Regions from separate parts of the Homo sapiens genome. Here region 2 is linked to region 1. Evidence: fine-mapped expression QTL. Tissue or cell type: whole blood. Region 1 holds a variant in brackets; the other region holds the start of a gene. All regions are shown on one strand. Distances are from middle to middle.

What was found. PIP is the estimated chance that this variant, and not a neighbour inherited with it, causes the effect.
Region 2: TIFA starts here. The variant in region 1 is fine-mapped to the expression of TIFA in whole blood (INTERVAL, PIP 0.98).

What each region holds. Positions count from the first base shown.
Region 1 is chr4:112,224,770-112,232,878 of GRCh38, reverse strand. AP1AR (adaptor related protein complex 1 associated regulatory protein) reads right to left here and starts at 1,092. Exons shown (of 10, transcript NM_018569.6): 1 at 705-1,092. The coding sequence starts at 787. It overlaps AP1AR-DT (AP1AR divergent transcript), which reads left to right and starts at 729. Exons shown (of 1, transcript NR_186684.1): 1 at 729-3,318. RefSeq lists enhancers at 298-347, 372-1,319 and silencers at 558-827, 988-1,267. The variant C/G (reference allele first, on the strand shown) is at 3,747.
Region 2 is chr4:112,282,016-112,290,124 of GRCh38, reverse strand. TIFA (TRAF interacting protein with forkhead associated domain) reads left to right here and starts at 4,221. Exons shown (of 2, transcript NM_052864.3): 1 at 4,221-4,485. RefSeq lists enhancers at 2,490-2,609, 5,119-5,238, 5,269-5,448 and a silencer at 4,169-4,478.

The DNA.
Region 1 (8,109 bases):
AAGTGAAGTTCAGAAGGACTGCAATTTACCTAATGTTACAGGACGTTTGAGTAGCAATCAGGGCAAGGAATTCCTCTCGAAATTTCAAAAACTTAATACGAAAAAATTACACATTGTCCCTGTAGTTATGAGCACCAAGAATCTGAATGCCCATTGGGAACTCTGCAATTCAGCAAGTCTTTGTAGCTACCAGAGTTCATCAGTATCTGGAACCTTATTTTACTCCAGCATCCAAATGACTTCTACTTAAAATCAATCTGAGGCATTAACTCCGGAGCCAGATCCCACCTGCTCTGCCAGGGCTAAAGAGAGGGTCAGATACAGGGATACTAGCTTTGGCGTTAAACCTAAGCTCAGCGCAGGGTGTGTCCAGGTTGCCGTGGAGCCGGTCCTACAGCCCATTAGCGCGAAGCTACCCCTTGTTTCCTGGAGATGATGTCTCCCGTGACTCCTTCCCCGCGTGACAGGGCGCCCTGGCAGGAGGGACACCCCGCCCCCTCTTCTACCTCTTTCCGAGGAGGCCCCAAGACCGGACCCCAGACTGGGCCTCCAAGACGACCACCAGTCTGACGTCTGCTAAGCAGTGAGTGTAGCAGGGCTCTCGACCGCCACCTCCAGCCGCCGGGGGACGGTGAAAGGGATTCCCCGCCGGGGGCCGAAGAGGAGGAGCCACGGGGGCCGGGCCCCTCCCCCAGCGGGCTTACCCTCCGCCGCCGCCTACTCGCTGCAGCCGCCCCGCTTCCTTGCGAAGCAGTCCGAAGCACTGCGTCCAGCAGCAGTTCCCCATCGCATGCCGCCCAGGCGCCGCCGCTCCTCCTCCTCCTCCCGCTCAATGCCCAAACCCAGGCCCGGCAGCTGCATCCGCACGGCACGAGCCGAAATGGGGTTCAAGGACCGAGGGCGGGCCGGCCAGAGCCCGGCGGCGTGAGGGCACGGGGCGACGAAAGACGAGGCGCTAGGGAACAAAGGCAGTGTTTACTCCAGCGGCCGCAGAGCCACCGCTGCGCGAGGGAGGAGCACCGGGCTCAAGGCTCTGGACTCCCTCGCCGTCCGCATGGCCCTTCTCGCCTCAGCTCCTAGCCCAGCGTGAGTGACCGCCTCCAGCTGCCGAAGGAGGCCAGTCCCCGCGAGCCGAGCACCCTGGCCCCGCCCCCAGCGCGCCCAGGCCCCTGCTCGCCGCCAACGCTGCCACACCCCCGGCCTCTCCCGCGCCCCAATTGGGCGCGCTACCTCGGTGCCCCGCCTTCTCTGGCGACCGGCCTGTGCGTCACTTCCGCTCGCTCCTGGTTCAGCCGCCTCTGCCTGCGAGACGGTTCAATTCCTGCGTGCGGACGTTTGTTTTGTTGGACCTTGACCTGACTAGGAAATTTCCCTCTCTCATTGCAGTTTCGGGCATCCTCGTCCGGAGCACGCTGGGCGTGGCATGGCTAAGGCTCAGCCTTCGAACTTTGTATCAAAGGCGTGTGAGGAGCCAGAGTCCCAGGCCGGAAGTCATAAGTGCGAAGGGGCGTTTCTCTGCACGGTGTGCTTAGTTTTTGTTAATACTGCACCATAAGCGGAAAATAGACTCGGGAACTGATTGAGGTTACTTTGAACGCACCAAGATTTTTTTCCGGTCTCTGGTTTGTGTCTTAATTTCCATACTGTTAATGTTTTAGGGAAACGTAATAATGGTGCATTATTGTCCTCGTTTTGTTTGAAAATCAGATCTTCACATAATTTTGGGTTGGGTAGTTGGGGTTCAGAGGAAATTGGCAAGAGGGCTGGGGTTTTTCGGGGACGTCAGCGTTGCCATTCCAAGCATGCTGCCCAGAACTGCTGTAGATGGGAAGAGAAAGCTGCTCTAATGTGTCCGCAGCCCTCTCAAGTGCTACCATATAATTCGCGTCTTGTTTGGCCTCAAGACAGTTGGCCTCACAATAGATATAAGATGTGGTTTAGTAGACACCTCGTCCAGTGGATAGGAGGATGCTCTCATGGACTGGACACATCAAGTTTTTAGCCTGTTTAATTAAACCTAGAAAAATTGTTACATTTTAGAAAGTTTTTATTGATGATAAAATGTTCTCTGAACTCATTTTCTTGCTTCTTTAAATACGTATCTGGTTTCAATCTTAGCACTGCTACTTACTAATGTTTATTTTATTTGGGTTTTAGTTGTTTTGTAATCAGAAGCATAGGATAACATTTGTCCCAATGGTTTGCTTTCAGTGAATGTTGGGATGACCGAATGACTTCCTAGTGAAAGCATTTTCTTTTCTCCTTCCAACCCCTGAAATTAGACAAATGTATTAATGAAATAATCATTAAAATTCAACTATAAATGTTTACAGAAACTGGTACATCTATCCTATGGAATATTTAGTAACAAATAGGAACACAGTATTGATGAACACACCCTGAAATGAATCTGTAGGAAATTATGGTTAAAGAAAAAGCCAATCTCAAATGCTTATATACTGTGTAATTCCATTATGTAACATCTCAGAATTGATAAATTTATGTAAGTGGACAACAGAATAATTGATTGCCATGGGTCAGGGAATGGAAATCCTGCATCTTGTCTATATTAATGTCAGTATTCTGGTTGTGATATTGCAATAGTTTTGTAACATGTCACCACTGGGGGAAACTAGATTAAAGATATACACGGTCATCTGTATATTATTTCTTAAAACTGCATGTGACACAATTGTCTCAATATAAAAAGTTTGATTAAAAAAATGCAGCTATAGACTTGACAGCACTTCCTATAGACATTCTATAAACCGTTATTAAAACTGAATCTCACTTAAAAATAATTTTTTTATAGTAAATCTGTTCTCTCAGTTAAGGATATGAATGATCCTCAGAAGCAATACAAATGAATAAGACATTTAAAAACTTCACTAAGCAAAATAATGCAAATTAAAATGCATGTTTTAGTCATTTGTATTGATTCACTTGTCAAGTTAACAAAGCTTTACAGTTAGAAATATTCAGTATTTGCAAGGATACAATGAAATGGTACTATTCTAAACTGCTGCAGATAATGAAACTCATTCTGAGAAATTATTTGGAAATACCAAGAGCCAGAAACAAACTAAATGCTCAAAAATTGAAGGATGATTAAATTTGCTGGTGTATTCTTGTTATATAGACATAATAAATATATTTTTTAAAACAATATGGAAAAATGCTTGCTGAATAATGTGTGAAAAATCAGGATAGAAAATTATATGTATGTTCCAAATGATGTTTAAAACAAAACATATACATTCTTACATTCTTTCTTACACGTGTTTCTTGAAAATAAAGGCTGGATGGTAAATATCAAAATGCTAACAGTAATTATTTCAAGACTGTGAATGTTGGGAGCTTTATTTCTCTTCTCTATTTTCTCAATTTTGACAATTATTATTTAATACTTCTGTAATCAGAAAAAAATGTTTAAATCTGACCCTTCAGTAGAAAAGGTTGATAACCAGTTCAATTAGAGTTTGATCACAAATGCAAGCATTTAGAAATGCAGAATTTTGCCCCGCAGTTCAGCTAAAACCAGGTTCTTGTCACATGACAAGGAAAACTTAGACACGTGGACACATTGAAGGGTGAGTAGAGCAGGATTTTATTGGGCAAAAGGAAAAAGAAAAAACTCACCAAAGCGAGATAGAGTCCTGTTATCAGGCCCCCACCTCATAGACTGAATCCCAGGCTACTGCACAGGGACTGAAAAGGCACCTCACAGATTGAATCCCAAGCCACCA[C/G]ATAGGAACTGAAGAGGCCAGCCTCCTTCCCCTGCCCTGGTTCCACCCCATTCCCCCAGTGCGCATATGGGCATGTTCACACAAGGCACTGGGCAGGTTCCCTCATCTGCACAAAAGCATCTGATGTGAACACTTGTGGGGCAGGTGGGAGATTTTTCTGGGGACCCCTTTTTGTCTGCCTAGGCATTTGGCTGTCTCCGAAAGTAATGATAACTTGAATATGGGTAGATTATAATAAATTCAGGGGAGCTACTTAATTTTTTTTCTACAAATGTATTAAATAAATTACCAAGCTAATCTTAGAGGTTATTGGAATTTATCATTGTGCAATTTTTCACCAAATTTGACATCAAGAATCTTCATGGTAAGTTTTAAGACTTTTTAAACATTCAGTTAAGTGATGATCTGCTTTTAGTTAAACAGAATTAGCAGGGAAAAAACCCGTAACTGGAATGGATGTTTGAGAGGCAGATAAACTTCATTTTATGGTTGAGAAAGAGTAGTCTTTGAGGAATTAAATGATTTGCTCAAGGTCATACAATGAATTAAAAGTATAATATGAAGAAATCTCAGGCCTCCTGACAGACTTGTGCCTTCTGCCATGCTTCAGTACTGCTTCCTCGACTCTTACATTTGGACATGGGTATAAAATCAGTAACGACCATAGTCACATGTATTCTGATAAGATTTATAAGTTTAATTCATCATTGCTAGAGAGTTCATTTAGAGCTGGGTGTGGTGGCACGTAACTGTAGTCCCAGCTACTCAGAAGGTGGAGGTAGGAGGATGGTTTGAGCCCAGGAGTTTGCGTTCAGCCTGGGGAACATAGCAAGACCTCATCATTTCAAAAAGTTCATTTATATGACAGTTGGCTACGCAGAATATTTAACTTGTCAGTAAGATACACAAACACTTAGATTATCTACAGTGGGACCAAGCACAGTGGCTTACGCCTGTAATCCCAGAATTTTCGGAGGCTGAGGTGGGCAGATGGCTTGAGTCCAGGAGTTCGAGACCAGCCTTGGCAACATGGCAAGAGCCTGTCTCTACAAAAAATAGGTGTGGCGGCATGTGCCTGTATTCTCAGCTACTCAGGAGGCTGAGGTGGGAGAATTGCTTGAGCTCAGAAAGTCAAGGCTGCAATGAGCCGAGATCTAACCACTGCCCTCCAGCCTGGGTGACAAGCCAGACCTTGTCTCAAAAAAGAAAGACTATCTACAGTGATTACTGTCAGCTTGCTAGAGACATCCCACCTGCTTACAGGTAGCAGAACTTCTCACCTTCTTCCCCATCCTTTTCAAAATTCTCTTGGGTACTAGGCTTAATACCTGGGTGACGAAATAATCTGCACAACAAATCCCTGTGATATGAGTTTATCCATATAACGAACCTGCACATGTATTCCTGAACCTAAAATACAAGTTAAAAAAAACCCCGGCCGGGCGCGGTGGCTCACGCCTGTAATCCCAGCACTTTGGGAGGCCGAGGCGGGTGGATCACGAGGTCAGGAGATCGAGACCATCCTGGCTAACAAGGTGAAACCCCGTCTCTACTAAAAATACAAAAAATTAGCCGGGCGCGGTGGCAGGCGCCTGTAGTCCCAGCTACTTGGGAGGCTGAGGCAGGAGAATGGCGTGAACCCGGGAAGCAGAGCTTGCAGTGAGCCGAGATTGCGCCACTGCGGTCCGCAGTCCGGCCTGGGCGACAGAGCGAGACTCCGTCTCAAAAAAAAAAAAAAAAAAAAAAAAAAAAACCCACAACATTTTCTTCTCTCAAGTATTTTATTCTGAAGTTGAAGGGAATGATCTTTTCTCGTAGGTGCTCCGAAGTCCGTCAGGATGCAACGTGTACCCCTAATTGTCTTCTGGATTATGTGGTTCCATATCTGAATCTCTGCTCAGAACTTCTTCTCTATTGACTGCTAATCACTTTTTGTCATTTTGAGATCATTTGCTACTATTATGTTTGGTGTGGAGGTTATGTGTGGTGTGGAGGTTATGTGGTCCCTGCAAAGGGAAGAATTCTGTGTTTTCCATTACGACATTGTTCCAAATATGGACACAAAGTCGTACTTTTAACTCACTGAGCGTAGTTTCGATTACCAAAATTTATACAGAGTACTAGATATGACTACTATAAAATGGAGATAATGAGATAAATTTTGCCTTCGTTGTTAGGATAAATGATTAAGCACTAAACAAAATTTGCCTTTGTTGTTAGGATAAATTACTAAGCACTATCAAGTACTTAGTATAATATAGTTATGTTATAATTTCTATAATGTACTAAATAGGCTATACTATAATTATCTAAAATACCATAAATATAAATAGTAGGTGTTATTATCCACAGACCGAAGGAAATTTTCATCAATATTATACTTTCCTTTGTAGCTACATTCCTGTCATCCAATACAAAACGCTAGTCTTTTAAAATTTCTGTCTCTTAAACAGTCCTCAGGCACACTTCACACCACTACTTGAAATCAGGCTCCAAGAAAATGTGGCATAGGTAGAGGAAAAATTCCCCAACTCTCAGGCCTTGTCTGTCCCATGATTTGCCTCTTTCCCAGATGATTATAAGTGAGAATATCCTCTGACTTAAAGGGAGACCTCAGTCCCTACCAATTAGGAGTGTATTGTCCTGGGAACCCAAATGGAATAATTTCTTCTTAATACGACAAGCTAGTATCATTATTGTTCCTAAAGTCTTATTTATTCAGTCTTAAATAATACCATATGAAAGACCAATAAGCCAGTTCAGGTTTAAATTGAACCAGCCTCGACATTGCCTAATTCATTTGTACATATTTCCTTCCATTATAAGTGAGAATTTTGGTGCACCAAGTCTAGTTTCAGCTCCCATGTACTCAACAATGGCTTGAACAAGAGCACATTTCCATAAGAATAGATAACATTTTGCAGACACATCACAGCTTAAATTAATAGTTAATGAACAAACATTTGTCCAAAAAAAGTCCAAGACAACTAACACTTTATATAATGCAAACAACTTTTTACACTATCACGCAGAGTATTTTGGCTCTTTAAAATCACTTCTCTCAAATTTATTTCTCGTGATGCTCTTTTACTTTATATTTGCATAACTTAATAGTTAAGTAGATCATTTGAGTAATTTTCCAAGAAAAAAGGCACAAAAAGATGTTCTTAAAGATAAAAGGGAAAGTTATTTAACTATTGGCTCAGTCACCAGCAACTCATTTTTTCTGGCCTTTGGATGTATGTGAGATGAGCTTCATTAGTTAGTAACACTGAGTACAATGCACACTAAGTAATTTGCTTCCTTCTTTGATCACCCAACATACACATTTCACAAAGAGAGGGATGAGGGATAAATAGGAACAGTTACACGATTAATATGGAGTCCTTCCTCTAGGCAGAGTTTGTTCCAGATCTCTCTTGCCTAGTTGGAAACCACACTAGTAATTCGAACAAGGGAAATTTAATATGGGAATCAGTAGGTAGGTCAGTGGTGGTTAATGCTAGAAGGAAAATGTAAGTCAAACAGATGTAGCTCCTGCAGGGAGTAGCAACCACCACTGGAACTGAAGAAAAGTGAACAAGGAAAGAATTTAGAAAGTTAGAGGAAGGCCCTACAAGCTAGATATTCAAGTTTCTGATAAGAGTTATGGATGCCATAGAAACATGCTGCCTGCCACTACGGTAAGGGAGAGCATAATAGAAGTTGCCTACCCATGAACTCCCTGTGTAGGCTAGGAAGCACTAGCCACTGAAGCAGGAGGGCTACGGCCACGGTGATAAACACTGCCAGGATTCCTTCCTGCTGATCCACTTGCCACTATATAAACAGAACAGAGGAAAAAGGATGCCACTTCTTCCACCCTTGCAGTGTCCCTGCAGCACCCTGTATTGGGAGATCCTAACATAGAATCAGCCAATGAACGAGAAGGGGTGTCTGCAGAGTCCAGTTTTAGAATAAAAAATCAGAGCAAAGAGGATAGATCATAACTGGCACACGTTTTAACATCCACCCTGGGACAAGAGACAAAGCCTTGGACCCACATAAAGGGAGGAGCCTGAGAAGTATACATAAAGTCAGAACCCTTAGAAGATCTCACTCTGGATAAAAGCCACCTAGTCTACTGGGAGATGAAAACAGAAATTTGTTACTACTTAATTTTTTTTTCAATAGCTTTTGGGGGAAAGTTTATTACTATGGGTGTGATCTGAGTTGGAAAAAAAGGCCTGTCTTCTTTCTAGTTAAAAGAGTTGGAATTCACATTAACCTTAGGGTCTTGGAACCCCAGTCCAGAAATTAACATAAAAAGTCGTTTGGGGCCAGGCATGGTGGCTCACACCTGTAATCCCAGCACTTTGGGGGG
Region 2 (8,109 bases), 57 kb before region 1:
CTGTTTTCTTTAGTAGTGCATCCTTCACACATAGATTTAAAATGCTCATTTTATTTTTCAATTTTTTTTTTTTTTTGAGACAGAGTCTTACTCTGTTGCCCAGACTGGAGTGCAGTGGCATGATCTCTGCTCACTGCAACCTCCACCTCCCACGTTCAAGCGATTCTCATGTCTCAGCTTTCTGAGTAGCTGGGACTACAGGTGCATGCCACCACTTATGGCTAATTTTTGCATTTTTAGTAGAGACAGGGTTTCACCAGTTTGGCCAGGCTGGTCTCAAACTCCTGGCCTCAAGTGATCTGCCTGCCTGCCTTAGCCTCTCAAAGTGCTAGGATTGCAGGTGTGAGCCACTGGGCTCGGCTTTAAGTTGTTAATTTTAATTGTGGTCACTTGACTTCAAGAACAGGGAAGAGGAAGAGATTTGGGCTGCCGCCTGTCCCTCATTTAGGAACTAGTGGAAAACGATTTAGGTCAGCTATCTCAGGTGATTCTAAATGTTTTCACTTGTTAGCAGAGAGCATCCACCATGAGGCGGTGAGACACACTTGAGCTGAACTGCACATAATGTAAACGTCAGGGCCGGACAGGGGAGAGTTAGACAAGTGTGGGTCTCAGGTGCTTAGAACGCCTTGGACAGAAAGCGAGGTCATATAATTCATTTATCAGCAAGTAACACAAACATGCACCTCTTCTTTTTTTTTACATGGTGTGATTGTATTACCACAAATTAGCTGCTTTTATTTTTTATGTTAAATAACATACAGTAGGCGTTTAATGTACATCATCTTAATTATGGGCTAGCAAAAATATCTAAAACTCTTAAGATTCTTGCCACGGAAAAACTTTGTATTTCCAAACAACCAAGTAACTTAATTAGAAATTATATTGACCCATGTCATGGGGATGAGGGATGATGATAACAGGAAGTGATGGCATGCCATCAATTGAATAGGAGAGCCAAGATAAATTTTTACTTTTTTTTTAAACGTTAATACAATTTAGAAATTTCAAATTGTTCAAAGCTGGATCGAAATATAATGGATTATGGGCATTTTATGTTATTTTCAAATTAAATGATGGGTCATTGGTAATTAAAACAGTAAATCCCTCCTTTCTGTATCAATAACACATGCCTACTGTTTTCGTCTATTTTGAATACAATCCTAGCCCAACTTTTAGTATAGTCATTTCCCTGAAGGGTTTCTTGTAATTTTTTCCTGAAAGCATTTATGTTACTTCCTATAACCCCAACACCACTCAGGGCATTTGGTTGTAGCAAGTGAGGTTAACCAAGTTTAAAATCCTGTTGAATTCACAGGAGAGTTTAACTGCATCTGTCTAATTTAAAAGATGTTGGCAGCCCATGAGCAGTTCTATGTGCAAGAGAAAGTTTCACACTTTAAGGCTATGTCAGGATCAGATAATGAATTTATCAAAATGACACGATCACATTGAAACAAAAATATTTTTGTTTTTTGGTTTTTCTTTTCAAAAAGAAAAACCGCAATAAGAGGGCCTCAAAGGTGATTTCCAGCTGCTATGTTCTCATTAGCATATTTGTAACGGTGGCACACAGTGGAAGCCTTACATTTCCTCAGTCTGATGTAACTTTGGCCAAAGTACTTTCAGACTTTAGTAATTTGCTTGTTTTAAGAGAAATAATAGCCTGAGATGAGGATATTTGTATAAACCCCTTCCTGAAATGTCTAGTACCTTTCATTGCATAATTAAAATTCCTATTGTGTTTCTTTAACAGTAAAGACATTTTCGTTATCAAAGAATGATGTTCATGTTTTAAATAATAACTAAAATAATCTCTTCATTAAAAATAATCATTTTTAATGGTTTTATACAAACTGAAACAATAATAAAGCCCATATTACAAATTACTTTGCCTAATTTAGATATGAGTGACTTAAAATTGCTTCTTTTGCAAATGTCCCCTGGTGATTTTCAGAAAACTTAATAAATTGAAAGTACAGAAATAAATAGTCACTTTTTTGGGGGCTCTGGCCTTATTCAAGCTTTTAGAAATTTTCTGGGCCTTTTGTCAGTTTTCAAATTAGAGATTGGAAACTCCAATTCTGATAATACTGTTCTACTGTATGAGTTCACTGACATAATCAGATAGCACGTCTTATCTTCCACCTGCTCTCATGTTCATCAGCTGAGAGAAGGTACCCTGACTGTCACTTCTAGAGAAGAAATAATAAATGTTGATGATTAACAAAATTGCAGCCCTTACGGGAATCTGCCTCACTTGTAAATGTACCCTTCTTTCCCCACAGTCACTGTACTTGATTATACCTAGCTCTGACACAGTTCAAAACTTAACCGCACCCATAGCACCTCTTTATCAGGTGGACATCAGTGTCATTTTATTGCCAGTGAAACTGATCCACAAACAAGCAACTCTCCTGAACTCAAGGACAGAAGACAGACAAGGGGCTTCCACTCATTTCCATCATCAGAATTTGGTTTCCCATGCGAAGAAGTAGGCCGCTGTGATCTCAGCCAAGCCAAGTTTTGTCCTCCTTCCTCTATCTATCCTCAGTCTTCTTTCTCCTTCTATGGCAAGGGTCCCCAACCTCTGGGCCATGGACTGGCAGTGGTCCATGGACTGTTAGGAACCCAGCGGCAAAGCAGGAGGTGTGCTCAGGGCCAGCAAGCGAAGCTTCATCTGTATTTACAGCTGCTAACCGTCACCTGTGTTACTGCCTGAGCTCTGTTTCCTGTCAGATCACTGGGGCATTAGATTCTTATAGGAGCAGGAACCCTGCACATGGGAGGGATCTAGGTTGCCCGCTTCTTATGAGAATCTAATGCCTGATGATCTGTCACTGTCTCCCATCACCCCCAAATGTGTCCGTCTAGTTGCATGAAAACAAGCTCAGGACTTCCACTGATTCGACATTATGGTGAGTTGTATAATTATCTCATTATATATTACAATGCAATAATAATAGAAATAAAGTGCACAATAAATGAAATGGGCTTGAATCATCCTGAAACCATCTCCCGTGGCCCCAACCCCAGTCTGTGGAAAAAGTCTTCCATGACACTGGTTCCCAACAGGGATTGCTGGTCTCTACAGTGTCTATCCTCTCTCTCTCTTTTTCTTTAAACAGAGTCTCACTCTGTTGCCCAGACTGGCGTGCAATGGCGCCATCCCGGCCTCACTGCAACCTCTGCCTCCCGGATTCAAGTGATTCTCCTGCCTCAGCCTCCCGAGTAGTTGGGATTACAGGCACCCACCACCAAGCCCAACTAACTTTTGTATTTTTAGTAGAGATGGAATTTCGTCATGTTGGCCAGGCTGGTCTCAAACTCCTGGCCTCGTGATCCGCCCACCTCGGCCTCCCAAAGTGCTGGGATTACAGGTTTGAGCCACGGCACCCGGGTCTATCCTCTCTTGACACCTACTCTCCTTAGGTTCTTCACACTTAGGTGATTCCAAATCTTTTCACTGAGGCAGAAAGGTAGCATTACCTTCTTCTAAGCTATAAAGGACTCCTGAGAGGTGTTTCCCATTTCATCATGTACCAGCTTTTACTTGTGGACTCTGGATGTCCATTACGATGCAAGCGGCAGGAGAGAAAGCGACTGGACTGCTCTGCTGGGTGTAAGGCGAGGGCAACCTGGAGCAAGTTCAAATCCCGCCTCTGCGGGAGGCAGAGGTTGCAGTGAGCCGAGATGGCGCCACTGCACTCCAGCATGGGCGACACGGTGAGACTCGTCTCAAAAAAAGAAAAAAAGAAAAAAAAAATTCCACTTCTGCTCGCCACACTCCACCATTCTCTGAGCCTCGGTTTACTCATGTGTAAGGGGGACTGCGATGATTAGAGGAGCTCGTGCATGCCACGCACTGGCTTGCTTGGTATCCTTGGAGTCACCGAAAGATTAGTTCAGCTCCCCGCCTGCCCACGCCCTGGGGCAACACTCATTTTGGGGAAAAGTCCTCCTTAATGCTGAAGTGATCCAGTTCCCTTCTTTTCTCTAGCTCGCCAATCGGGCTGGAGGAGAGGCCACTCGTTTGGGAAGGCGCGGTCCGGGTCGGTGTACCGCGCACCAAACCCTGCCAGAGAACTGAGAGAGGCGGCCAGGGGGCTGGGTACCTGGTGAGAAAGGCGCCAGCTGCCGGGTCACCTCGAGAGGAAGGAAGGGGCGGGAGCGCGAGTGGAGCGGGCGGAGCCTGAAAACCTCCGCGCCACCGCTGCGCTCTTTACAAAGGCCCCGGGCGCGAGAGGACGTGCTCTGCCAGCCAGTGGGAAGGCAGGCCGCGCGCGCGGGAGCGCGGGAGGATCGGCGGCTCGCGGTCACTGGTCCCTGGCTCGGTTCCCCGCACCCCGGGGCTCACACTTACCCGCGCGGAGGAGCAGCGGCCGGGTGTCCACCCCCATCCTGCGCCCAGTCTCCTCGATTCCCCTCGCTCTGAGCCGGGAGAGCCGAACAGCTGAAGAGAGTTCACTGACTCCCCAGCCCCAGGTACTTGCGGGGCGGCGGGCTGGGGGTGAGGTGGGGACTGGCCCTTTTCTGTTTATCCCGCAAAGACAGCAGCTTTGTCCAGGAGATTTTGGGGGTGTCGGATCGGAAGTCATCCCCCGCTGCTCCTGCTCACCTGGCACACGCTCACCATATGCTAAGGAAAGCCTGCAAAAATTATAGACAGCACCTCCCTGTTTTATAAAATATGAGAATATTTACATAAATGAGGAAACATTGGAGATGGGGGTGTGTTTTCTCTGTACTTTGGTATTCTTTTCAACGTTTTTCTAATCAGAAAACAAAAACGAATGCCATTTATGCAGTGTGGCTCCAGAGCAGTTGTGCGTGACCCCCCTCCCCCGCTTGCCAACTGCTACGGCCCCACGCTCTCGGTGGCCAAGCGAGACCTTTCTGAGGGGCCCTGGGCTCCCTGGAGTGCCGAGGTCCTTGGTCCTAGACCTGACTCCTTGCTTCAGTCTGGTTCATGAGAGAAATATAGTAATCCGTTGTTTTCTGGGACTTTCCCCAGATTTCAGATTGAAAGGTGGAATTTCCCAAATCCTCTGAAGCCAAAATCCACACTGAGCCTCACTGCGGATTTCCGCAGCCACCAGGAAGTGGGACTGGACCCCAGGTCAGGCCAGTCAAGTAGAGTGGGAGAAAGAAAATCTCATGTCTGAAAGACACCGAGCTTTCCTAAGGGTTTCCTCCTGCTGTTTGGTTTTCACTTTTTTTTTTTTTTTTTGATTCTTTGTTTTTGCAAGACCTGTGGTTTTAGTATTAATTCTGCCAAACAGCTGTGCCAGAGTTCACAAATATCTTCAGAGCCACACTTCAGGGTGATCCTGTTGAGCAGGGTTAGACAGGAGGATAACTTGGTCCTTTGCTCTGCTTCCAAGTTTCTGTTCCCCTCCTGTGTGCTCAGTGTTCGGTATTCGTTAGGGAGAAAAGCCTTGAAACTTCCTACTTGCAACCACCCAAAGACATACTCTTTCTTGAGAATATATTCAGGGGGAACTGGGGAGGCGAGGGGGTTGGGGGGAAATGAAAGTAAACATTTTCACCATCCAGAGCAGACCCCATTAGTTTGGTCAATCCTGTTTTAAAAAATAGACTTCTTAAAGCATGAGAAATCTGGTTGGCATGCATGACCACCCAGGGGTGCCAAGCTTTCTGTTAAACTGCTTAGACATCTGGGTCCTTGTAGCGAAAATATTTCTGTATATGTTTTTGTTTATGGCATTTTAAGGCCGAACACCCTTTGGCAAGGAGAGGTGGTATGTCTCTTCACGGGCTTTGCAGGACCTTAGTGAGTGTGTGTGTACGTGTGTGTGTGTGTGTGTGTGTGTTGTGTTGCAGGGAGGGTAGCAGAGGTGGAGGTGCTGTTTTTGCACATAGCACCTCTACACGTATCCATTCTTCTTTCCCCAGAGAGGAGTCAGAAGCCTTGCCCTCGATCTAACTCTTCTCTTCCCAACTCTAAGCCTCCCAGGTTAAGTGTATACATCCTGATGTCCAGCACAGAAGAGCTGGACACTCAAGATGCAGCATCTATGCCTTCTGTATTCAGCTTTCAGAGACAGAGTTCCCAACTGCAGTGCTTATTTTTATTTCTATATTTATTGTATTTCCTTTGTTAACACAGATATTATTGTTTGTCAGATATTAATCAGTGTTTTACAACTTTTCCATGTCAGATATCACAGTTTACCCCTTTAATAATACTTTGCTAATCTCCAACCACTGTCAATTCCATAAAAATCAGAGGTTGGTGATTTTGTAAGGAAAATATTTGTTAAGTGTTTGAATAGATATTGAAGTGCACATGGTATAAAATTCCAAAGGTGTAGAGTGTGTGTGCAGTGGAGAGTAAGTCTCCTTCCTATCCTGGGCCCCCAGTTTCTGTCTCCAGAGGTAACCATTGTTATCACTATATAAAATCATTGTTGCCCTGTTTCTTTGATAACTTACGACTAACAGATTTCAAAATGCTGTTTTGAGCAAATGTGCACCAATGATTTTTTAAAATCTAACAATTTTAACTATATTATTTTAATTGTCAGCTTCTGTCTTTCCTGTTTTTCTGCTGACCACTCTGAAATGTCAGAGTGTTCAGGTCACTTTGTAGAGGGACTCTGTGGCTTTGAGGATAAACAAATAGATTCATTTCTAAGTTCCTTGAGGTCAGAGATCAACATGGTCTCCAAACAACCTGCCACAATTACCGATGAGTACTAGGTCCATGCTAACATTTATACACCCAGGCTTACTGATACCCAGGTTACTGATATTCACCGTAACCTGGTGCTTCAGAGCCTGTTCCTCCTATGAGGTAGCACTAATGGTGTATTTCCCTCCCCAGTATTAGATTCTTGTTTGGTGCCTTGCTGGTTGTAGCCCACACACATTTATGTCCCCCTTCTCTACAGGTTAACTGCTAAAGTTTGTGAAGTAGCTGGTAACCAGGGAGGCAGTGTTTGTAATGGTTAAGAGAGGATGCATTGGAGTTTGAGTCCTGTCTCTGACATTGGATTTATGATCTGGGCTGGTTTTTAAACCCTCTGAGATTCAGCTCCCTTATCAGTGAAGCAGTGATTCACAGGGTTATTTTGAAGATTAGATGACCTGTTGTCACCAAAAAGTAGGTTAGTTGCCCGCTGCATGCAGAGTCCAATTAACAAGAGTGAGGTCTGGTACAAAAAAAAAGTGAATTCCTAAGCTAGCTTGGAGAAGGGGGCACAAAACGTCCTGCCTTTATCCACACCCAGAATGTGCTGCTTCACTTTTGGAGCAGAAAGTGGGCCTCTTTTATAAAGTAGGGTGGGAAGTGAGCCAGAGCAGGGGGTCCCCCGCTTCCCTGGTGCTTTATCTACCAGACAGTTGAGTTGACACCTTCCTGGGCAGAAATATAAGTTATATAAGTGGCCAAGTGGGCATACTCTCACCATGCCCTCCTAGTAGGTGTGAGTTCAGAGGCCACCCCCTGGAGGTGAGAGTTCTGTGGGGACATGCTTTGGTCTGCAAATCGACTGTCAACTCTCCAGGAGAGATCAAAGTTAAGGTTGTCTTGGAGCACATAGTTAGATATACTTGCCCTGTAGGGAATTTCTGGTCAGGAAAGGTGAATGGTTACATTTGCATTTCTGAAGGTCTAAGTAGGAAGTGGGGCACAGGGAAAAGAGAAAATAATTAAAAAAATTAAACTATGACTTAGAAAAGTGGAGGTACTTGGTTACAGTGTATCAGGGTATCAGCAGTCTGCCTGGCACATGAAAGGCATGAAATAAGTAATAGCCCTTATTCCTGTCTGTATTAGTTTGTTCTCACACTGCTAATAAAGACATACCTGAGACCGGGTAATTTATACAGGAAAGAGATTTAATGGACTCACAGTTCCACATGGCTGGGGAAGCCTCACAATCATGGCAGAAGGCAAGGAGGAGCAAGTCACATCTTACATGGATGGCAGCAGGCAAAGAGAGAGCCTGTGCATGGAAACTCCCCCTTATAAAACCATCAGATCTTGTGATACTTATTCACTATCACAAGAACAGCATGGGAAAGACCTATCCCCATGATTCAATTACCTCCTATCAGGTCCCTTCCACAACATGTGGGACTCGT